Linked DNA regions of Homo sapiens. The protein of the gene in region 7 purifies or fractionates together with the protein of the main gene of each other region. This does not show direct contact. Each region holds a gene or a part of one and is shown on either strand. Other genes may lie near its edges. The genes, in order: SNX9, EPS15L1, EPS8L2, SHC1, PTPN11, CRKL and SOS1.

What was found.
Region 1: the proteins of SOS1 (region 7) and SNX9 purify together in Homo sapiens (co-immunoprecipitation; one study listed by IntAct). This does not show direct contact.
Region 2: the proteins of SOS1 (region 7) and EPS15L1 purify together in Homo sapiens (affinity purification with mass spectrometry, with the first as the bait; one large-scale study listed by BioGRID). This does not show direct contact.
Region 3: the proteins of SOS1 (region 7) and EPS8L2 purify together in Homo sapiens (affinity purification with western blotting; 2 studies listed by BioGRID, with this or other methods). This does not show direct contact.
Region 4: the proteins of SOS1 (region 7) and SHC1 purify together in Homo sapiens (affinity purification with western blotting; 14 studies listed by BioGRID and IntAct, with this or other methods). This does not show direct contact.
Region 5: the proteins of SOS1 (region 7) and PTPN11 purify together in Homo sapiens (affinity purification with western blotting; 4 studies listed by BioGRID and IntAct, with this or other methods). This does not show direct contact.
Region 6: the proteins of SOS1 (region 7) and CRKL purify together in Homo sapiens (affinity purification with mass spectrometry; 3 studies listed by BioGRID and IntAct, with this or other methods). This does not show direct contact.

The regions. Positions count from the first base shown.
Region 1 is NC_000006.12:157,826,246-157,829,745, forward strand, and holds part of SNX9 (sorting nexin-9), read left to right. Parts: intron 1-3,500. UniProt on the Homo sapiens protein: Involved in endocytosis and intracellular vesicle trafficking, both during interphase and at the end of mitosis. Required for efficient progress through mitosis and cytokinesis. Required for normal formation of the cleavage furrow at the end of mitosis.
Region 2 is NC_000019.10:16,465,471-16,468,970, forward strand, and holds part of EPS15L1 (epidermal growth factor receptor substrate 15-like 1), read right to left. Parts: intron 1-3,500.
Region 3 is NC_000011.10:723,231-725,728, reverse strand, and holds part of EPS8L2 (epidermal growth factor receptor kinase substrate 8-like protein 2), read right to left. Parts: intron 2,489-2,498; coding exon 2,376-2,488; intron 1,006-2,375; coding exon 900-1,005; intron 2-899; coding exon 1-1. UniProt on the Homo sapiens protein: Stimulates guanine exchange activity of SOS1. May play a role in membrane ruffling and remodeling of the actin cytoskeleton. In the cochlea, is required for stereocilia maintenance in adult hair cells.
Region 4 is NC_000001.11:154,964,773-154,967,747, forward strand, and holds part of SHC1 (SHC-transforming protein 1), read right to left. Parts: coding exon 2,899-2,975; intron 1,773-2,898; coding exon of another isoform or gene 1,746-1,772; coding exon 1,547-1,745; intron 1,460-1,546; coding exon 1,390-1,459; intron 1,309-1,389; coding exon 1,174-1,308; intron 1,010-1,173; coding exon 771-1,009; coding exon of another isoform or gene 597-770; exon of another isoform or gene 514-596; intron 1-513. UniProt on the Homo sapiens protein: Signaling adapter that couples activated growth factor receptors to signaling pathways. Participates in a signaling cascade initiated by activated KIT and KITLG/SCF.
Region 5 is NC_000012.12:112,417,472-112,421,746, reverse strand, and holds the start of PTPN11 (tyrosine-protein phosphatase non-receptor type 11), read right to left. Parts: upstream 2,801-4,275; 5' UTR 2,636-2,800; coding exon 2,622-2,635; intron 1-2,621. UniProt on the Homo sapiens protein: Acts downstream of various receptor and cytoplasmic protein tyrosine kinases to participate in the signal transduction from the cell surface to the nucleus. Positively regulates MAPK signal transduction pathway. Dephosphorylates GAB1, ARHGAP35 and EGFR.
Region 6 is NC_000022.11:20,923,907-20,927,406, forward strand, and holds part of CRKL (crk-like protein), read left to right. Parts: intron 1-3,500. UniProt on the Homo sapiens protein: May mediate the transduction of intracellular signals.
Region 7 is NC_000002.12:38,985,052-38,988,551, forward strand, and holds part of SOS1 (son of sevenless homolog 1), read right to left. Parts: intron 2,541-3,500; coding exon 2,422-2,540; intron 1,265-2,421; coding exon 773-1,264; 3' UTR 313-772; coding exon of another isoform or gene 259-312; 3' UTR 1-258.

The DNA.
Region 1 (3,500 bases), on a different chromosome or scaffold from region 7:
CCTAGCACTTTGGGAGGCCGAGGCGGGCGGATCACGAGGTCGGGAGATCGAGACCATCCTGGCTAACACGGTGAAACTCCATCTATACTAAAAATACAAAAAAAATTAGCTGGGCGTGGTGGCGGGCGCCTGTAGTCCCAGCTACTCGGGAGGCTGAGGCAGGAGAATAGCGTGAACCCGGGAGGCAGAACTTGCAGTGAGCCGATTTTGCGCCACTGCACTCCAGCCTGGGTGACAGAGTGAGACTCCATCTCAAGAAAAAAAAAAAAAAAAGGAAAGTTAATCAGTAACTGCACATTTTAAGGGGATTATCTATTTTCTATTTCTACTCCTTACTCAGTAGAGTGCTGCATTCAGTTTAAGTGTATACACTCACTCAGTGCAATCAAGTCTTGTTTTACAAATATTAATACAAAAGCTGCAGAGCATTTTAGTCTTGACCTTTATTGGAAGCCTCCAAAGGTTATATTTCGACCCAGCCAAAATATAACCTATTTATATTATAGGTTTTATATATATATGATATATAAATATATTATATTATATATATATATTATATTTTATATATAAATATATATTATATTTTATATATATATTATATTTTATATATAAATATATATTATAGTTTATATAATATATAAATATATATTATAGTTTATATAATATATAAAATATATTATAGTTTATATAATATATAAAATATATTATAGTTTATATAATATATACATATATATTATAGTTTATATAATATATACATATATATTATAGTTTATATAATATATACATATATATTATAGTTTATATAATATATAAACATATATTATAGTTTATATAATATATAAACATATATTATAGTTTATATAATATATACATATATATTATAGTTTATATAATATATACATATATATTATAGTTTATATAATATATAAACATATATTATAGTTTATATAATATATAAACATATATTATAGTTTATATAATATATAAACATATATTATAGTTTATATAATATATAAACATATATTATAGTTTATATAATATATAAACATATATTATAGTTTATATAATATATAAACATATATTATAGTTTATATAATATATAAACATATATTATAGTTTATATAATATATAAACATATATTATAGTTTATATAATATATAAACATATATTATAGTTTATATAATATATAAACATATATTATAGTTTATATAATATATAAACTTATAGTTTATATAATATATAAACTTATAGTTTATATAATATATAAACATATAGTTTATATAATATATAAACATATATTATATTATAGTTTATATAATATATAAATATATATTATATTATAGTTTATATATATATGAGATATATAAATATATAATACATTGTCAGTCATCCTGTTTTATTTAAAAGATCAAGTTCTGGAAAAGAAATGAAGAATTTTTTTTCAGTGTCTGTCAAAGGGGACATGAAGAAAATTGTTAGTGGAGGTTAATCCATATCTATATAATTTAGCTGTAATTTCTACGTCAAAGTTAACCTTCAGTCACTAATTTGGATCCTTTTGTGCTTACATAGTCACCTTTAGGCTAACTATAACAAGATTCTAGGAGTTCCTGATGCTTTTTTTTTTTTTTTAACTCTTCGGTTCCAATACCTAAAGTTATACACATGTGTTACACAGCTTGTCTGGTTAAATTAAGTGGGTATGGAATGTTAAAAATAATGGTAGGGAATAAATGAATTACTTAAGACTTGTTTATTCCATGCATAGATTAGTGAGAACAATTCAGAAGGCATACTTTGTAGCCCCTCCAGAGCAGAAACTTCTTTATTTGACGACTAGAATAGAAATATCTTTCTAACAGGTCTTAAGGATTAAAGTTGATTTTTATGGCTTTTAAAATGTTTGGAAAATGCTAACCATTTAACTTTGTATAACAGTAGTATTTTCTATGTGTCTTAAGTAGAGTGTGCAGTATTTGTATAGTCAAAGATAAGTTCTGTGACAGTAGAAAGATGAACAAGTCTCATTAAAGAAGGAATAGATTAGAAAGCATAAAAATGTTGCAGTTTTTCTACTGTGCCTTGTTTTTATATTGACCATCTGAAAATTAAATTATAGTTTTACTTTAATTGTCCACTTAAAACTTTGTAGCTTTGCAGTACTGCTGTTTCTTTTCTGGAATGCTGTTCTCCCTTGTCCTTCCCTAGGTACTTTGTTTTTAGATGTTAAGTTTTTATGATTATGATTATTATTATTTTTTTTTTGGAGACAGGGTCTCACTTTGTCATCCAGGCTGGAGTGCAGTGGCACGAACACAGCTCACGGCAGTCTCGACTTCCCTGGCTCAGGTGATCCTTCCACCTCAGTCTCCCAAGTAGCTGGGACTACAGGTGTGCACCACCATGCCCAGCTACTTTTTGTATTTTTTGTAGAGATGGGGTTTCACCATGTGTCCTGAACTGAGGTGATCCTTCCTCCTCAGCCCCGCAAAGTATTGGGATTACAGGTTTGAGACACTACGCCTGGCCACATATTAGGTCTTAATGCGTCTAAGCATCACTTCCCCGGGAAAGCCTTTCCTGATGTCCCCGCCCCTGTTTCAGGGTCACATTACACACCCCGACTGCCATTTTATATTTGTTTCTATAACTGATGGCTGGCTCCTTTGAATGCTGTCAGCCTCAAGAAGCTGAGACTGTTTGTGATCACTTTTGTATCTTCAATGACAAGTTTAAAAGAGCAAAAATATATTCTAGTGAGATAAGTGACTCGATTATTGAAGTAGAAAACTATTAATCCCCAGCTGTAAGCTTTTGTTCTTTTAATCATGTGTTTTAGTGTATTTGTTAAAAGTGTATACAGGTACAACACAAAATTTACATCTGCAGCTTAGGTATTGGCAATTATATTTTTTAAAACATAATCAATTTTACTAATGATTACATGAGAAATTGCCTGATGTTTTAAGGTAGTTGGAACAAGCTTCATATTTCTGAGACTTTAAAGAGTTGTCTTTAACCTACAAGTTGTCAGAATTGTCTTTAATTTCCAAATGTATTGGGTTTTTCTCTTTCTTGTTGGTGATTTCTAACTTGATTGCATTGTGATCAGGGAGCCTAATTAAAATCAATACTGTACCTGGAAATTTGTTGAGGCTAACTTTATTCCCAGCATACAGTCAGCTTTTATGTTTCACCTGTGCACAAAAAGAGTATACATATTATTGATGTGTGTGTCTATTCTGTATGCTCTATGTCCACTAGACTTACTGTGCTGTTTATATGTATATCCTTACTAATTGTGTTCCTCTATTTGATCTGTTGTATCTAACTGATCCTCTGTCTACTTGATGGTGATGCTAAAATGGTGAATTTAAAAATTTTCTCTACATTTACAATTAGTATTATTTTCTAGGTGAATTGAAGTTTTTATCATTATGAAGTGAACCTCTTTACCTCTGGTAATGCATTTTTTCTTAAAGACTATATTTCTAATGTTA
Region 2 (3,500 bases), on a different chromosome or scaffold from region 7:
TCAGGAGTTCGAAACCAGCCTGGGCAACATAGCAAGATCCTGTCTCTACAAAAAAATTAAAAATTAGCCAGGTGTGGTGTTGCATGCCTGTAGTCTCAGTTCCTTGAGAGGCTGAGGTGGGAGGCTCACTTGAGGCCAAGAGTCGAGGCTGCAATGAGCTTTGATTGCACCACTGTACTCCAGCGTAGGCAATAGAGCAAGAGCCTGTCTCTAAAGGAAAAAGGAAGACAATAAGCAGGCCTTTCCATGTCCCTCTCTACCTTTTAATGAGATGAGATTAAAGTAATAAAATAAAAACTCAGACTACATGATATCTAATAACTAGGTATAAAAACAAATGAGGTTAGGAGATGTCATAAACTTAAAAACAAACAAACAAAAAAATAACTTTCCAAGACAAGAAACTATGGTGCAATGAAGAGGCCTGAACCTGTGTCAGAAAAGCCATGTCTGCCTGAGCTCACTGGGTACAAACTTGGGCAAGGGACGTAACAATCTCTGGCCTCACTTTATCTATTTTTTTTTTTTTTTTTTTTGAGACAGAGTCTTGCTCTGTCACCCAGGCTGGAGTACAGTGGTGCAATCTCGGCTCACTGCAACCTCCACCTCTCAGGTCCAAGCAATTCTCCTGCCTCAGCCTCCTGAGGAGCTGGGACTACAGGCATGTGCCACCACGCCTGGCTAATTTTTGTATTTTAGTAGAGACAGGGTTTCAGCATGTTGGCCAGGCTGGTCTTGAACTCTCGACCTCCAGTGATCTGCCCTTCCTGGCCTCCAGTGATCTGCCCCTCTTGCCCCTATACACTGAAGATAATACTGGCCAGAGTGACCGGGAGGATGAACCAGGCAATCTATGATGTTTTCTTTACTCAGTCCTTCCAGCCTGGTGGTGAGACCTTTCCTGACCTCCATCATCAGATCGGAACCTGCCCTGCTCTACTCATCTCACAGCATCAATCCCCACCGAATGCACTACACATTGGGCTCATTTCTTTATATCTGGGCCCCTCCCAACGATGTCAGCCCCGTGAGGCGGCACTGCCTTCAGATTCACTGTTCCATCCACTGCCCAGAAAGTGTCCAGCAAAAAGAAGATGCCAAATAAATACTCACTGAACGAACAGTGTGATCTACAAAAGGCAGGCATGAGGGCCAGGCGCGGTGCCTCCTGCCTGTAATCCCAGCACTTTGGGAGGCTGAGGCAGACAGATCACTTGAGGTCAGGAGTTCGAGACCAGCCTAGGCAACATAGTGAAACTCCATCTCTACTAAAAATACAAAAATTAGCTGGGTGTGGTAGTGGGCGCCTGTAATCCCAGCTACTCAGGAGGCTGAGACAGGAGAATCGCTTGAATCCAGGAGGCAGAGGTTGCAGTGAGCCAAGACAGCGCCATTGCACTCCATCCTGGGTGACAAGAGTGAAACTCTGTCTCAAAAAAAAAAAAAAAAGGAAAGCACTGAGAGCACATGCGTCACACGGCAGGGTCCTGACACTCTACTGTGACAAAGCAGGTCAAGCGAGTCCACAGTACCATTCTGCAGATGAGAAAACTAAGGTACAGAAAGTATTTGCAGGACTGAGGGCAGTGAAGGAATATCTGGGAATCCAAACAAACATCTAAGGACCTAAACATTGAAAAGCAGGCACCACTGCACCTGATGGTGCCTGCTTTTCTTTTCTTTTTTTTTTTTTTGAGACGTAGTGTCACTTTGTTGCCCAGGCTGGAGTGTGCAGTGGAGTGATCTTGGCTCACTGCAACCTCCGCCTCCTGGGTTCAAGTGATTCTCCTGCCTCAGGGTCCCGAGTGGCCGGGATTACAGGCGTCCGCCAGGACGCCAGGCTAATGTTTTGTATTTTTAGTAGAGATGAGGTTTCACCATGTTGGCCAGGCTGGTCTCAAACTCCTGACCTCAGGTGATCCACCTGCCTCAGCCTCCCAAAGTGCTAGGATTACAGGCGTCAGCCACTGCACCCGGCCTGGAAAGTTGTTTTAAAGTTCAGAATGGAGGTGGAGGGGTCTTGCCCAGGGAGAATCTATTTAGTCGAAAAAACAACAACAACAACAAAAACAAAAAAAAAACAGGCCAGTGCAGGTCAATAAGTGACAGTCAGGGAATTCTGGATCTTTCAGGAGTGGATTTTACTCTAAAACTTCGTTCTCATCAATTTAGACTGCATTGCCATTAGCATTCTACTAAGATAGACTAGCACTTATTTCAGAGGAAGAAAAGAAACAAGGGACAAGAGGACAAGTAAGTGTCCGAGCCACTCAGCATTCATTCCAGACACACTGGCCGGGTGCTGCTCTGGGAGAGGTGCCCAGCAGGCCATCTGGAACAGCAGGGCTCTGCGGCAGGAGGACGCAGGTGTGACCTCAGCTCTGCGCCCACCAACTATGAGACTTCAGCAAGTTACTCTATTTCTGTGGGTCTTGGTTTCCTCACTTGTAAAAGGGGAATAAAAGCCTCCTAGAATGGAGGCACCTACTGAAATACAGCAAAAGCTCCTGGATGAAGAACACATAACAAGGGGGAAAGGAGGAAGGTGTAGCTCTTTGGGCCCAGGGCAGTCTCTCCTCATCACTGAGCCCAGTTACCACGCGCTTCCTAGGTACAGCGGTCACAAAAGGGACCCACGGAAGGTACAAGGGAGAGAACTCTCATTCGGGTGGGGCTAAGGGAGGACAACACAGGGGAGGCCTCAAAGACCGTCCTTCAGGGCAGGCAGCATACGGCAGGAGCTCACAGTGATGTTCTAGCAACCGGAGCAACACAGCTAAGGATGCTGAGGCTAGAAAGTGTTGCCAAGAGCCAGAAGTGCAGGAAAGGGACCCAGCAAGGTTAGGTGGAGTCGATTCAGGGCTTACTAAGGTCATCAAAGCTGACTTTTTTTGAGACTGAGTCTCACCCTGTTGCCCAGGCTGGGGTGCAGTGGCGCGATCTCAGCTCACTGCAACCTCCGCCGCCTGGTTTCAAGCGATTCTTGTGCCTCAGCCTCCCAAGTTGCTGGGATTATAGGCGTTTGCCACTATGCCTGGCTAACTTTTGTATTTTTAGTACAGACAGGGTTTTGCTATGTTGGCCAGGCTGGTCTCGAGCTCCTGGCCTCAAGCAATCCATCCACCTCAGCCTCCTAAAGTGCTGGGATTATAGGCATGAGCCACAGCGCCCAGCCATAAACTGAGTTCTTTTGGAGGAAGGGGAATGGGAGCTGTGAAAGGTTTTTGGAACAGGGGAATATGTTTTAGAAGATGAATCCTAGCCAGATGCAGTGGCTGACACCGTAATTCCAATACTTTAGGAGGCTGAGATAGAAGGATTGCTTGAGGCTAGGGGTTTAAGACCTGCCTAGGCAGCATAGCAAGACTTCATCTCTTCAAAAAAAAAATTGTTTAATTAGCTGGGTATGATTGGTGCTGCGCTCCTGTAGTCCCAGCTACTTGAGAGGCCAAGGTGGGAGAATTGCTTGAGCCCAGGAGTTTGAGGTTGCAGTGAGCTAT
Region 3 (2,498 bases), on a different chromosome or scaffold from region 7:
CCTGCGGGGCGCGCCGTCAGCCCCTCCCCACACCCAGGCTCTGCGGGGCTGGGACCACCCGCTGGCGCCGCTTTACAGAGGTCGGGAGCGCCCTAGGGTCTCCCGGAGCCCCGCTTCGCTCCATTCTCTCCGCACCCCTGTTTCCACCCCTCCATCCCTCGCTGGGCTGCTCCTCCCCCACCCTGCCTCAAGGAGTCTGGGGGACCCTTTTTTTCTCGGAGACAGGGTCTCACTCTGCCGCCCAGGCTGGAATGCAGTGGTGCAATCACTGCCCACTGCAGCCTCGACCTCCTGGGTTCAGGCGATCCCCCCACCTCAGCCTCCAGAGTAGCTGGGACCACAGGCACACACCACCACATCCAGATAATTTTTATGTTTTTTGTAGAGATGGGGTTTTGAGGTGTTGCCCAGGCTTGTCTCGAACTCGTGGGCTAAAGGGATCCTCCCGCCTTGGCCTCCCAGTGCTGCGGTTACAGGCGTGAGCCGCCGAGCCAGGCTGTGGATGTGGCCCACTCCCCCCTAGCCTGCTCCACTTTCTGTCCCCCAGTGGGTGGCCTGGATTCCGGCTGGCAGATGCGGCCAGTGCAGATGTGGGGGCTCCTGGGTGGGTGTGAATGACAGGCCCCCGCTGAGTCCACGTGGTGCAGATGCTCCCCCCAGCCTGGCACAGGGGTCTCTGCATGCCTTTGGGGAGCCCCAAGATGGGAAGGCCCCTCCAACAGGCTGGGGATCCTGATCAGAGTCCAAGGGCGGGGACCCTGGAGAAAGGGGCCAGCAGCTGTGCCCCGTCCTGGCATCACCCAGCCTGGCCCTAGACCGCTCCCCACCTCCCCTGGTAGCCCCTCCCTTGAAGCCCTGCCCTGTTTCCCCCTCTTGGACCCCGTCCTCCAGCCCCTCACCTCTAGGACCTCATCCTTGAGCACCGATAGCTCGTTGGCATTTCGGGCTGTGAAGTCATACAGGATCTTGACGTACTTGGCCATGGCTGGTGTTGGCTGGTAGCCCCTGTGAGGAACAGGAGGGGCTGAGGCCCAGTCTGGTGGGGGTCTCCTCTGAGACCTGGGCAGTGGCTGGGGGGCAGCAGCTTCCCAGGTGCACGACTGGCTGCCTCTTTTCTGTTCTGGAGGTCACCGTGGAGAGAGGCTGCAGGCAGCGTCAGCCCGGAATGGAAACTGTGACAGCCCCAGAGCTTTGGGGCCCTGCGTGGAGGCGGGGCAGGCAGGAGGTGGGCGTGGCGCAGGGGCCTGTGGTACAGCAAGGCTGGCCCATCCCAGGCCACCTCAGGGGTCTCCAGTCCGGCACCCCAGGGGAACCAGAGCCAGGGGCGTTCCTGGGAAACGCCAGGGTCACAGCTCCCCGCAGCTGGCCAGTGAGGGCCAGCATGTCTTCAGAGCCGTGGCCCCTCTGAGGACTGAACACAGCCCAAATGGTCCAGTGGAGGACGGGTCTCAAGCTCCTCTCTGTGGGGTGGGACCTGCACCTCAAAAGCGCGGGGGGGCTGGCCCTGGCTGAGGGGTCCTGGCTTTGGCATGTAGCAGGCCTGTGGCTGTCACCTGGCCAGGCCGTCCATCCTGGTCAGTGTGGCCCTGGTCATCAGGGCAGCTCCCGTGTCCAGGTGCTCAGGGAAATGAAGTGGCCATGGACTGTCAGGACATGGCCAGGGTGGACAGACCAGGAGCTGAAGTCAAAGGGTGGAAATGTTTTTAAGTGTGGTCCTAGGCCAGGGACCACGGGAGCCAGGCTGACACTGTGGGTGAGGGGAGGCCATGCTTGCTTAGAAGATGGATTGCTGGCCCCTCTTTACCCCAAAATTGAATCCTGGGGTGTGGGAGGGTCAGGGGCTTCCCATGCAGATTGGACCAGGAATGAGCACAGAAGGGAAGAGGAGAGGCAAGGAAAGACGGGACTCCCCTAGTGCCATAGGCTTGTTCTTTGTCCTCTTTGGAAACAGGTGGGGCTGGGGGTGGGAGGAGGGGAGAGGCTTCACTAGCCCAGAACCCCAGTCTCCTCTTTTGGCTCTACCAGAGGTTGGGCCTGAATCAGTCCCAACAGCCCCAACAGGGTGCCAGTGTTTGGTGAAACCACTCAAGTTCAGTGGTTTAGTAGTTTCTAACCTTGGTTCTAAAACATACATGTGGATGCACAGAAAAAGCTGATATATTAGGGTAGAGAATTTGTGCATGACTTTTGAAATGTTTCCTTTAATTATATATCATGCAGTTGAAATGAAAACCGCTTCAAATCTGGAAAAGTATTTTAAACCACTTGAACAATGCACTTGCCACCACCTGGTGGCAGCGTACCCATATGTTTTTAGAGACTGTAGGTTCTGAAGGGTTTCACTTTCATGCTCCCTCACTTTGAGGGGGGCTTACCTGTGAGTATGTGGGGAGCTGACTGGTGGTAGGGCATCCCCCGGGGGGGTGGGCTCTGAAGTGGGGCTGTGCTTCTGGGAGTTTCTTATGGACTGTCGGCTCACTGGACTCACCTGTGGGGAA
Region 4 (2,975 bases), on a different chromosome or scaffold from region 7:
GAAAGTTTTGAAGAACAGTGAGGCAGTGCAGATAAGAGAAAGCACAGTGGTCTGAGTCCTGAGTCTGGGGAGCTGGAGAAGCCCTTGGATCTTCTTACAAAAGGAAACTTGCAGTGTCTAGCCTCTAACCATCTGACATTGGGCATCACAACCTCTTCAGGGTGGTTTCCTTATTTGTCAAAAGAGGGGCACAGATGAGATGACTGCCTTCTAGCTCTGATAAGCTTAAGGCTTGGGGATTTGAGGACGGGCCAGGACTGTATTTGTTTTGTTTTGTTTTTTCAGACAGAGTCTCACTCTGTCACCCAGGCTGGAGTGCAGTGGTGTGATCTCAGCTCATTGCAACCTCTGCATCCCAGATTCAAGCAATTCTCCTGCCTCAGCCTCCTGAGTAGCTGGGACTACAGGTGCCTGCCACCACACCCGGCTAATTTTTGTATTTTTAGTAGAGACAGGGTTTCACCATATTGGTCAGGCTGGTCTCGAACTCCTGACCTCAGGTGATTCACCTGCCTCAGCCTCCCAAAGCGCTGGGATTACAGGTGTGAGCCACCACGCCTGGCCCTGTGCCAGGACTATAAAGAACATAGTTCAGGCTAAGGGATGAGCCTCTGGAGGAAGATGCCAGACACTTTAAAGAGCAAGAGAGGCCCATAGACAGCTGCCCAGCGGGAATGTCTACAAAGCAATGAGGGAAGGAAGAGGGATACACTGTAGGGTACTGTACCTTCCTTTTTGCCACCCCTCACCCACACCTCTGCCACACTCACCACACCCTCAGGGTCCACCAGTAGCAAATGCTTAGGCTGCCCACTCTGCAAGCCAGTGAGCACATACTGGCCAGGTGTGGTCGTGCTCTCCCGTACCAGGAAGTCCCCATTGAGCTGCAGCAGTGCCTCAGCCTCCCGCCGGCTCAGCTTCCCATGGAACCAGGGCTCCCCTCGGAGCTGCTCAGCCATGGACACCGACTGGGGAGGTGGAGGCACGCGAAGAGCATCTTCGAAGGGCTCTGGAAGTATAGAGGGAGGGTGAGGGGAAGTAGCAGGCACAACACACACCCAAGACCCAGACTTCAGGGAAGGGAAGTCAGGAAGGAAAGAGCAGATAGGCAGGAGAAGGGCCAGAACCAAGTAGAAAGGTGGGGATGCAGAGAGGAGAGAGACGAGCACTCACTCATGTCAAACAGGTCCCGGGGTGCACTGCCATTGATAGCAGGATTGGGGGGCCCAGCACCACCCACTGCTTGCCGGGCCTTGTCTAGGTTCTGGACGTTGACATAGGAGGGATCATCAAAAAGCTCTCTGCCTGCTGAGGAAAGGGAGGCTCTACAGTGATCCCAGCCCTGCCTCCAACACTCCCCAGCTCTGCCTATCTCGGCTCCCTTCATACCTGGACAGGGTGGTGGAGGTGGCATCTGTTTGCGGACTTCTGGATCTCCCCCAACAGGCTGTCCTACAGGCTGCAGGGATAAAAATAAGGTGAGACCAGAAGCCCTAACCAACCACTCCCACCCTAGCCCCAGCCCGCCTCCATCCAAGCAACTTACCAATGTAGCTCCCAAGTGGCTGGGGGTCTGGGCATTGGGTGCAGTGGGTCGAGCAGCCCCTGGAGCGGCTCCTTCCCGAAGCCTCATGTCTACCACCCCCCCCAAGGGGGGTTCCTTCCCCGGGAAGTCATTATAGTACTGATGGTCAGGTGGCTCTTCCTCCTCCTCATCCCATGCTGAGCCATCAAAGCCAGCCATCCTGAGGGACAGGACAGTGAAGCTGTGGCTGTAAATGTGTGGTGGGCAGGAGGAGGGAAGGACAGAATAGAACAGCAGCCATCTATTGGGTATTTACTATGGATTAAGCCTGAGGCTGAGTGTTTTATATACATAATCATTTCATTCTCCTGGCAACCCCGTAAGGTAGGTATTGTTTCCTTCCCCACTTTTACAGATGAGGAAAATGAGGGTCAGAGGTGAAAAGATCTGCCCAAGGTCTCACAACTAAAAGGCGGCCGAGCTCAGATTTAAATTCAGGTTTGACTTTAAAGCTCATCCCCTTGGCCAGGTGCAATGGCTCACGCCTATAATCCCAACACTTTCAGAGGCCAAGGAGGGAGGGTTGTTTGAGCCTAGGAGTTCAAGACCAGCCAGGACAACATAGCGAGACCTTATCTCTACCAGAATAAAAATACTACTACTCAGCCAGGTGTGGTGGCATGCACCTGTAGCCCCAGCTACTCAGGAGGCTAAGGTGGGAGGATCACTCAAGCCCAGGATATGGAGGCTACAGTGAGCTGTGATTGTACCACTGAACTCCAGCCTGGGCTACAGAGCAAGACTGTCTCAAATAAGTAATGCTCTTGCTCTTGATCTCTGTGCTATCTCCCAACAAGGAAGGGAAGCACCATGTAGGGGGGTGGGGGGCCGGGGGAGGCACTCCAGCTCCAGAATATTTTAACCTCTCCTAAATATTCAATCCCTACTGGCTCCACTGCTTATCCCTCAAGGCCTGAGGTGGGAAAGGTTGTAATCTCAGGGAAAAGAGATATCCTCCCAAACCCAAATTCTTGATGGCTTCTAGAGGCAGGAAAACACATAATGCCAAGCAGAGAAATGAGCAAGAAAGAGGGATGGGAGTAGAAAATCCCACCTAGCCAGAGAGAGATGTAACTTGGAGGCCCCGGACTACAACTCCACCATGAGCAAACAAGAAAAGCTGGTCCTGCGGCAAGCAGGGCCTCAAAAGTCTTTCCTCCTGGGCCACAGGAAACAGAAGAATAGCAGGAAGTGGGAAGCAGAGGCACACAGGTTATTCCCTCCCTGAACCTCTCAACTCAAGTGTAGGAAGAGCAGCCCTCCTTTCCTAATCCTAATCCAAGAGCTGCTCCACACTCTCCCCACCTGCTCACCTGTCATGAGGGGTGACCAGTTTGGGTGGGTTCCTGAGGTATTGTTTGAAGCGCAACTCGAAGGCCTGGCCAATGGT
Region 5 (4,275 bases), on a different chromosome or scaffold from region 7:
CTGAGGAGGGGGGATGGATTGAGCCTAGGAAAACAAGGCTGCAGTGATTGCACCACTGCACTCCAGCCTGGGCAACAAAGTGAGACCCTATCTCAAAAAAACACAATAATAACAATAATAATAAAATTCTAGGGCTGGGCAGGGTGTCTCATGCCTATAATCCCAACACTTCAGGAGGCCAAGGTGAGAGGATCACTTGAACCCAGGAGTTTGAGACTGCCCTGGGCAACACAGTGAGACCCCATCTCTATTCAAACAATTTTAAAATTTTTAAAAATAAAATTCTAGGAAATGCAAACTAATACATAGTGACAGAAAGCAGAATAGTGGCTGCCTAAGAACAAAGGAAGGATTATAAAGAACATAAGGCAAAATTACCAGGGGTGATAGATGTGTTCATTATCTTGACTATGGTGGTGGTTTCCCAAGTGTATATGTATGTCAAAACTGATCAAATTGTACATTTAAATATATGCAATTAATTGCATGTCATTTATACCTCATTAAGGCTGGTTAACAAATAAAACAGGCTTATAATCCAAAAAATAATGAATCATTCAAAATTATGTGTATTATGTTCATAACCCGGCTTTTTGGGTGGTGCATAATACCAGGGCTGGAGGGGAGAAGGAATTACTCCATTTCAAACTGTCATCTTTACCACTTGCTACTTTGACTATGCCCACACTTCTATGCTTCTAAATGAACAAACTGGACAATGTAGGGTCTATTACTACCCAGACCTTTTCCCAACCCCCAGCCCCGTCTGATGTCTCCTAAAGCAGCAGATCCTTACTTGTCTGGAAGAGCAGACACCAGGAACAAAAGGCTCAATGACTATTTGACAGATTAAAGAATAGACAACTGTTTATTTAAAAGCTCCCTAAAGAATTAGAACATTTGAGGCTATACACTGTTCTGTTGAAATGCAGTTATATATTACCCAGATCTGTAAGCACTTGCCAACCGACCTGTCCAAGTCACTCACTTCCTACGAGTTCTCAGTTTTCTTTTTCTCCCCTTTTTAAATTCCAGATCCATGTATGAATAACATGCCAGGTGTGTTTGGAGGAGACATTCCTAATATTTTGAAAAATCTCATTCAGGCTGGGTACGGTGGCTCACGCCTGTAATTCCAGCACTTTGGGAGGCCAAGGCGGGCGGATCACGAGGTCAGGAGTTTGAGACCAGCCTGGCCAACATAGTGAAACCCTGTCTCTACTAAAAATACAAAAATTAGCCGGGCATAGTGGTGCGCCTGTAGTCCTAGTTACTTGGGAGGCTGAGGCAGGAGAATCGCTTGAACCTAGGAGGCGGAGATTGTGGTGAGCCGAGATTGCGCCACTGCACTCCAGCCTGGGCAACAGAGTGAGCCTCCGTCTCCAAAAAAAAAAAGAAAAAAAGAAAAGAAAATCTCATTCAAATAGCCTCAATAGCTTGAATCGTTTTTTAAATGTCTGAGACAGTGACCATAATTGAACAATCATGGAAAAGAATAGACAATGGGTCTTAAGTGTGAGTGGTATATAGAGTGACTATACAAAATAGCAGGATCACTATCTGAAAACAACAGGTCACACTACTGTTTGACAACAAAATTAAGGCTTACAAATGGTTAGCAATAGTTACAAAATAATAGAAGCAACATAGTGATTAAAAGTAGGGATTCTGTCTCCACCACCTACTAGCTGTGAGGTTAGGCAATTTACTTAACCTCTGAAACTCGGTTTACTCATCTTTACAATGGGGATAATAGTAGCCATCTGATAGGGCTGTGGTCAGAACTAAGCAAATGTTAGCTATTAGTAGTAGTATTACCCTGACCTTTCAAAGGATCTCATTAACTCACTAATCCTCCTAAGTTTCAAATCTTGTCATTTACTAGCATGTTGCTTCTGGGCCTCGGTTTCCTCATCCATAAAACGGGTACCAGTAAAGTGACCTGACTGTTAAGGTTGCAGTGAAGGATTAAATAACGAGATGCGGCTCCCTTCCTTTCCATCTCCCAAAGCGAAGATCGCAGAGGAAGGAAATACTTCTAGTGGCTGCAGATACAGTCAGTTTTTCCATTTCTGGCACGTGAGGGGTAGGAGGAAAAGAAGACACAAAGAGGCATATAAAAGGGTCAGGGGTCCTGCGTGAAGTCCCCAAATGCACGAAAGTGGCACAGTGAGCCAGAACGACTAGACCACTGGGGGCCCGGCCCCGCGCAACTCCCCTCTCGTGTCCCAAGGAGCCTCCCCAAGTGAGCAGGGTTATTTCGGAATCACCATGAGGCAATTCTCATGAGGCAATGGGTCAGGAATGCGGCGCTGAGCCTGGCCGCTGGCACCCGTGGTTCCCTCGGCGGCTCTACCTGCCCCGGGCCTGACGGGCATCCCCGGGGCTGCCGCAGCCGGAACTCGGGGAGGCAGGAAATGAATGGGGACCCGAGGGGTGGGGGCGCGGTGGGGCCGGCCCCCGGCCCCTGGAGGGCGAGGGGACGAGGAGGGAACCGGCCCCCAACCCCGACCCGGGGCGGGAGCCCGAAGCCCGGCCGGGGCGCCCCCTTCCGGACGGGGCTAACCGAACGCGGCGGTGGCCGGGCCGAGGCCCGCGCCGGGCCCCTCGGGGCTCCTCACCTCCGCGATGTCATGTTCCTCCCGCCCTCCGGCTCCGCGACGGACCCGCTCCTTGCTCAGGCTCCGCTGGGCTCGGTCACATCGGGCTGGCCCGAGGGAGGCCCGCTCGGGACCGGACGCGGGGCAGAGCCAGCCGGCCGCGCACAGACCCCCCTCCAGGCCTGGGGATCCCGGAGACTGTGCAGCTGCCCCCCGGCCCGGCTCGCTCCTCCTCCGCCCCCGCCCTTCGCCGCCGTCGCCCCCGTGATGTCACCGCTCGCGACGCCCGCCGCCACTTCCTGCTTCCCGTCAGCGGAGGACCGAGCGACGGCCGGGAATGGCAGCGCGGGGGCTCCGCGGAGGCGCCACGCACAGTGTCCAAAGCATCCTTGCTTCCTCCTGGAAACCGCGGCCGCCAGGTGTGAGCTGCGCGCTCCGCGTCTACGCCACCGACCCGTCCGGGCCCGCTGCCACATCGATTTCATTCATTTCGTTCCACAAATCGCCGCTCCACTCATTAGCTGTGGAACCTTGGGGAAATTACCTACTGTCTCCGAGCCTCGGTTTCCTCCATTCTTTTCTTTCTGTAAGATAAAGATAGTAGGCTGGGCGCGGTGGTTCACGCCCGTAATCCCAACACTTTGGGAGGCTGCGGCAAGAGGTTCGCTTAAGCCAAGGAGTTCGAGGCCAGCCTGGGCAAAAAAGCAAGACCTCATCTCTACAAAAAATGCAAAAAACTAACCGGGCGTGGAGGCTGCGGCGGGAAGATAACTTAAGCCCGAGAAGTCGGGGCTGCAGTGAGTCGTGATCACGCCACTGCACTACACCCTGAGCGACAGGGCAAGACACTGCCTAAAAAAATAATAATAGGCTGGGCGCGGTGGCTCACGCCTGTAATCCCAGCACTTTGGGAGGCCGAGGTGGGCGGATCACGAGGTCAAGAGATCGAGACCATCCTGGCCAACATGGTGAAACCCCGTCTCCACTAAAAATTCAAGAATTAGCCTGGCGTGGTGGGGGGCGCCTGTAGTCCCAGCTGCTTGGGAGTCTGAAGCAGGAGAATCGCTTGAACCCGGGAGGCAGAGGTTGCATTGAGCCGAGATCGCGCCACTGCACTCCAGCCTGGCAATAGAGCGAGACTCCGTCTCAAAATAATAATAATAATTACAATAAATACTACTTTGGGGTGGGAGCGGTGGCACACGCCTGAAATCCCAGCACTTCCCTTTGGGAGGCTGAGGCGGGCGAATCGCTTGAGTCCAGGAGTTGGGAACCAGCCCGGGCAAAATAGTGAAATCCCATCTCTACAAAAAATACAAAAATTAGCCGGGCGTGGTGGCGCGCGCCTGTAGTCCCAGCTACTCGGGAGGCTGAGGTGAGAGGATTGCTTGAGCCTGGAAGGTCGAGGCTGCTGAAAGCCGAGATCGCGCCACTGCACTCAGGCCAGGTATGGTGGCTCACGCCTTCATCCCAGAACTTTGGGAGGCTGAGGCAGGAGGATTGCTTGAGCCTAGGAGTTCAAGACCAGCCTGGGCAACATGGTGCGACCATGTCTCTTAAAAAAAAAAAAAAAAAAAAAAAAAAAAGCCGGGCCGGGTGGTACGGAAGTATTACTTTGGACACTCTGTGAAGCTCGAGCAAGAGAGCAAGGCCAGAAACAGAGAAGCCAGTCAAA
Region 6 (3,500 bases), on a different chromosome or scaffold from region 7:
CTGTGCTCGGTGGCTCGTGCCTGTAATCCCAGCACTTCGGGAGGTTAAGGCAGGAGGATCGCTAGATCCCAGGAGTTTGAGACCAGCCCTGGCAAGATAGTGAGACCCCATTCCCACAAAAAATTAAAAAATTAGCTGAGCATGGTGTCATGCGCCTTTAAGTCCCAGCTACTTGGGAGGCTGAAGTGGAAAGATTGCTTGAGCATGGGAGGTCGAGGCTACAGTGAGCTATGATCATGCCACTGCACTTCAGCCTGGGCAACAGAGCCAGACCTTGTCTCAAAAAATGAATGAATGAATGAATGTAAGTTGTATATATTTAATATATTTAATCTCCATGCATGGTGAAACAGCTGTGGGAGAACTGAGAAAGGGTGCTTAGTCTAACCTGAGAGCCCAGAAGAGGAGCCTCACACACCTGTGAAGTAGAAGCCAATCCCTGAAGGGACAGGAGGAAACAAGAAGCATGGTTGTGCCTCCTCTTTACATCCCCTGTTCTAATTATTTAAGAACTCAAATCTAGACTTCCATAATTTGGAATGGGGAAAGGATTGCCAGTAATTTTAATCAGCATAGAATTCAACTCTGTGAATAAACCCCTTTGCGTTTCTCCTGACCAGTAGTTAAAATCATGTGAATTTGATTCAGAGAAAAATACAAGAACATGGCCAGGTGCAGTGGCTCACGCCTGTAATCCCAGCACTTTGGGAGGCCAAGGTGGGTGGATTGCCTGAGTGCAGGAGTTTGAGACCAGCCTGGGCAACACGGTGAAACCCTGTCTCTACTAAAATACAAAAAATTAGCTGGGCATGGCGGCGTGTGCCTAAGAGGCTAAAGGCAGGAGAATCACTTGAACCTGGGGGGTGGAAGTTAAAGTGAGTCGAGGTCGTGCAGCTGGACTCCATCCTGGGCGACAGAGTGAGACTCTCTCCAAAAAAACAAAAAACAAGAACACTGTCATGCTGAGAATGGAATCTTGTCCAATTAAGAGTTGTGTTCCCAGCCGGATGTGGTGGCTCACGCCTGTAATCCCAGCACTGTGGGAGGCTTAGGCGGGCGGATCATGAGGTCAGGAGATCAAGACCATCCTGGCCAACATAGTGAAACCCCGTCTCTACTAAAAATACAAAAACTAGCTGGGCGTGGTGGCATGCATCTGTAGTCCCAGCTACTCCGGAGGTTGAGACAGGAGAATCGCTTGAACCTGGGAGGCAGAGGTTGCACTGAGCCAAGATCACACCACTGCACTCCAGCCTGCCAACAGAGCGAGACTCCGTCTCAAAAAAAAAAAAAAAAAAAGAGTTGTGTTCCCATGGAAAGTACTAGTAGCCATTCGATTTGTGACTTTTAAAACTCAAATCCACAGAATTGTGACCTAAATTTTTCCTTTTGATCTGAATGATTAGACTAGATTTCTGAGGGTCTTTAAGATTAAAATATTTTAATTCTGGGCCGGGCGTGGTGGCTCACGACTGTAATCCCAGCACTTTGGGAGGTCTGGCAGGTCGGGAGTTCGAGACTGAACCTGGGAGGCAGAGATGACAGTGAGCCGAGATTGCGCCAGCGCCACTGCACTCCAGTCTGGTCAACAGAGCGAGACTTCGTCTCGGAAAACAAAAAACAAACAAACAAAAAACATTATTTTAATTCTTTCAGATAAGTAAAAGGGGGCACAGCCTATTAGTTGGGAGTTCAGATTAACTTGAGTTGAATCTGAGCTAAAATCATAACAAGTTGGGTGGGGCCACCAGGCACATAGCAACTCACCTGGAATGAACGTGACAAGAACAGTGGAAGAGGATGAGAAGAGGCTTTGAAGGTGCACACTCAACGGTATTCGAATTCTGTCACACCAGTTTTGTGACAGTATTAAACCAGAGTTAGGTAATTTGAATACCTGAGCTTTTGTGCTTTCAGAAACAAAAAAGGAGGGAAATAGGAAAGGGAAGTTCTTTGATATATAGAGGCCTACAATATACCAAAGCTCACTGCTAGACTCTTGGAATCTAATGGAAGTAAACCATGTTTTTGTTTTTGATTTTTGTCTTTGAGAAGCTTTGGTCTATTGAAAAAATTAGAATGCCATGACAGCTTAAAAGCAAAGGCAATCAACTGTACCTAAGAGGTGGGGAGAGGCTTGAAAGAGGAGATGCTCTTCAACTGATTCTTTAAGGATGAGAACAAGTATACGAGGTAGAAGAGGTGGTGGTAGAAGAGATGGTGGCAGTGCTTGCTGGTAAAGACACAGTTATAATTAATGTAGATGATGGGCAGGAACCTAGGAAGGAAAGATAAAGCCAACTTGTAAAGGGCCTCCTCAGCCTTGTAAATGAGCTTAACAATGGGAGCCATCTAAAGTTTTTAAAAAGAGAACTGTCAGATTTTAAAAGGAGAACTGATGAGTTTTACTTTTGAGAAACTGCTCTGGGTGGGGAAAGATCTGAAGGACTAATTCTCTGTTACTGGAGAGGGACCCTGAGAAGCTGAGCCAAGATCAAATGCCATAGGAATGTAAAGTGGCACATAGAAGGTGAGGGGAGAGGTATGATGACTTCAGAGAGGATTGAGTGGTGCCTTTGAGACAAGAGAAAGGGATTAGGGTGGGTGCGTGATTCTTTTCAACAGGAAGAATCTTTCTTTGAGGTACCTGCTGGAAGCCAGGTGGTATTTAGCAATCTGATGGGTTTGTTATTGAGAAGAGAGGTAAGGGCTGAATACATATAGATTTGGGAATCGCAGCTTAGATGGGATCACCCAGAATGAGGAGGCAGAACAGGAATAAGTAGAGAAAGAGAAGCTGCGGAAGGAGAGGCAGCCACAAGCATAGGAGGAGGAGCCATTAGTGATGGCCTGAAAGCCCAGGGACAGAAGGGAGGGGACCTGGGCATTAAATGCTGGTCAGTGATAAAGAATGGTGGTTACTGGCTGGACATGGTGGCTCACGCCTGTAATCCTAGCACCTTGGGAGGCGGAGGCAGGTGGATTGCCTGAGCTCATGCGTTCGAGACCAGCCTGGCCAACACAGTGAAACCCTGTCTCTACTAAAATATAAAAAATTAGCCAGGCATGGTGGCGTGCGCCTATAGTCCCAGCTACTCGGGAGGCTGAGGCAGGAGAATGGCTTGAACCTGGGAGGCAGAGATTGCAGTGAGCCAAGATCGCACCACTGCACTCCAGCTTGGGTGACAGAGCAAGACTCCGTCTCAAAAAAAAAAAAAAAAAAAAAAAAAGAATGGTGGTTAAAGCAGTTTCACTAGAGAAGTACTTAGCTCATCTTGGAATTGAATTTTTTTTTTTTTTTTTTGAGACAGTGTCGCTCTGTCGCCCAGGCTGAAGTGCAGTGGCATGATCTCGGTTCACTGCAGTCTCCACCTCCCGGGTTCAAGTGATTCTCCTGCCTCAGTCTCCTGAGTAGCTGCGATTACAGGCGCCCACCACCATGCCCGGCTAATTTTTGTATTTTTAGTAGAGATGGGGTTTCACCATATTGGACCAGGCTG
Region 7 (3,500 bases):
CAGTTATTTTTTTTTAAAAAGTTCTTCTGTCATGTTAATGACACAAAACTTCTCTTTTTTGAAGGCAACACCACCACATTTTGTTTGGGTGTGTGGGGACAGGTGGGGGGAATGCTCTTAAAATTGGTACAATTATTCCTAAAACAACAACAACAACAAAAAAGTACCTCTTTGGTGAAGCCTCGGTACCCATTCAGTTCACCGTAATAATCTGTAAACAGGCCTGTAGTACAGTGCCGGGCCTTGATTTCAACAAGGTCAGGTACCACAGCCTTTCCTCACAGTCCTTTGAGTGATTTTTAAGAAAATATTCTAAAGTAGAAGAGTAAAGCAAAGGAAAACAAAGGAAGATATTAAGATCCCTGTTTAAGTTTTTTTTTTTAAAAGTGCATAATTTGAATTACAAAAACTGTCATGTGGGCCTGCTGGACACTAGACTGTGTTTTCCATCCCTTTAATGATCACTTCACAAAAGATCACTTCACAAAAAGAGGACTCCTGCCTATTGGCCAGAAAAAGTCCCTTTATGATTTTCAGGTGCAATCAGTTGTCCAATTCCTCTAGGTCGGTCTTTCCATATTCTAAACTGGAATACCATTTCCATTGTATAATTACATCTAGGTTAAAATTCATTGTCTTATACTGCATCTTGAAGAAGAGTCGTTAGTGTTTGGAGTTCTCATTTTAACTCCTCAGTGCTGGCACATTCAGTGCATCCATTGCCAGCAATGGATTTGGGGCTAGGAAAATATACATCCCAGTACAGAGGAACTCAGGAAGAATGGGCATTCTCCAACAGTGGTGGTCCATCTCTGTGCATGGATGGGTGTGTGTGCTCCCTTTTGTAAGTTTTTGGAGGGAGTTTAGGGATATGTTGAGAAGTGCTTTGTCGTGGAGGAACAGGCGGCCCAGCAATGGAATGAAGGTCCACTTCTTGTGTCAATGGTGGTGATGGCAGATGCCTTCTTGTGCCGTGAGGAGAAGGTGTTTGAGGAGGAGGTGGTGTAAAGGGGGAAGGGCTGTTTGGGAAGAAGGCATTGCCATGGTCACTTTTTTTGCCCAAAGGGGGAGGTTGGAGATGTAGTGGTGAGCTTGAGAAAACATCAGGTGTCCTCACAGGTTCTCGTGGTGGTAATAAGGGAGGGCTTTCAGGAGGGTCTGAGATAGAGGTCCGGTCTGATATTGAATATCGTGGTGAATAGGCTTTTGATGTGGGTTGCCTAGGAGGAATGGCTGGGGGACTGTCCAAATGCTTAGACATAATCTAACAAATGAAAAGAATAAAATACACATTTATTAATAAATTTATGAAGTATCATGACTATAAGAATTAAGTTGGGGTTTTCAAACATGCTATTGGCAGGATGCTAAGTGTGGAACAGGGAGTTTTGCCATATGTTTTCTTTTTAATTAAAAAAAAATTTTTTTTTTTGAGACAATGCCTTGCTCTATTGCCCAGACTGGAGTGCAGTGGTGCAATCATGGCTCACTGTAGCCTCAACTTCCTGGGCTCAAGTGATCCCCCGACCTCAGCATCCCAAGCAGCAAGGACCACTGGCATGTACCACCATGCCTGGCTAATTTTTTTCATTTTTTGTAGAGTCAAGGTCTTGCTCTGTTGCCAAGGCTGGCATATGTTTTAAATGGGAGGTTCTGTCAATTCATAGAAAAAAAAAGTTTGCCGTAGTTTTTACTTAAATTTTTTTCCTCAAAATTTTGTTTGCTACTGCTTGCTTAGCTTATCACTCAATCTAAGATCATTTCTAATTTAGCATAAAGTACCTATTTTATAATTTTAAGTTAACTATGTTAACATTCATGAAGTTCTACAAAGAGTGTCTTGTCTTGACTTATCCTGGTGCTCTGCACTCTGGACAGCTTAAGAACTAATGAATTAAGTTTAACAGCTGGCCAAAAAGAAAAAAACAAAATTAAATAAGTAGAAATAATAGCTATTTTGAGCCTTTGGGGTCTCTTCCAAACCCAGAATTTTCATGAAAACTCCATTTAAAAGTATGTCAGATTTACTATTAAGGGCTCAGATAAGTAAATTTTAGCATATGTCAAAATACAGTTTGACTTATAATGTGCCTTCATACAAAGCTTCAGGACTTTCTCTGTATGCTTTTAAAGAACTGCTTGAAACCAAATTCCTCTTACTTTACAGATTAAAACTTTTGTTTTTTTCTGAAAATAACCATAGCCTTAGGTTTACAAGGGTCTTGAATGCATACCAAAAAACTACCTTCAGAAGAAAGAAACATTACTGCATGCTAAATCTATATGTAATCCTTGTTTAAACTATTAAGCCTGTATACTCTGAAATGTTAACTTATCCTAGTGAGAACTAAACTAGACAGCCGTTTATTATAATGAACTGTAATGATTCCAATTTCTACACAACAAGATTTCTTACTTTACCTTAGATGGTGAAGATTCTGCTGGGGCAGATTCTGGTCGTCTTCGTGGAGGAACAGGAGGAGGGACAGGCACTTCATCAGTGCCTTTGGTTAAACTTATAGATGATACAGAAGCAGATCCTGTGGGATGTTAAATTTTTAAGAAAAAGTCCACAGGAATTTTATTTCATTTATTTACCTTGAAAAGTCTTAGCTGGAAATTGCTTATAATTAAAAGTAATGTGTAGAAATACCAAAAGCTGTTCAATAAACCAATACCGAATAGTATTTCATTAAAGCAAACTGCCATAAAAGCATGCAGACATTTTTTAGCAGAATATTTAGAAAAAAGCTGCCTAAGGTATTCTGTTATTTTGCCTGAACAAAATAACATTCCCATGGTTACTCTATTATTGAAATTTTTAATTGAGTCTGATTCTCAGATGTCTGGGAGACAGTGAGCTACTGAAAATCTTTGGAATGGTAATTTTTAGATTCTATAATGGGTTCATTTTTTTCTTTGACTTTATTAGAATTTATAGAACTTCCCCACCTTACTGGATAGTCCCTGGGAGTAGAGTGTGTGCTCTTAACCACTCTCTCCAATGTCTCTCCCTAGCATTTCTCTCAAAGGATGCAAGGGAAAGAATCATAGTGTCTAGGTGAGGGGCCTCTCCTCATTTTGTTTAGTTATAGGCTCCCCTTTGCCTGTAAGCAAAAAGAGGCTCATTATACTCTAAATCCAAAAATTTTAACGGTGATGGCACTATTCAAGACAACGGAGGCAGCCCTGACCATGAAAACAGAAATTACACTAAAATCTAGTGAATCTGATTTAAGAATAAGTTGGTGGACTGGCACAAAAAAAGTAAGTAAAGCTACTAATTAGAACCTCTCTTACAGACATTTATGGTAACAAGAACATAAGGTAGGCATATAAATACACTTTGGAAAACAACACTTAAGTTAGTTGTTTATACCTACTATAAAAAAAGATGTGAAAAAAATACTTAAACCATCATTCAAAATTATAGTTGGCAGTTTTTTTTCCCTTTAAGCATTAAGCTTTTTATTTTGTCACATGTTATAAAATATAGAACT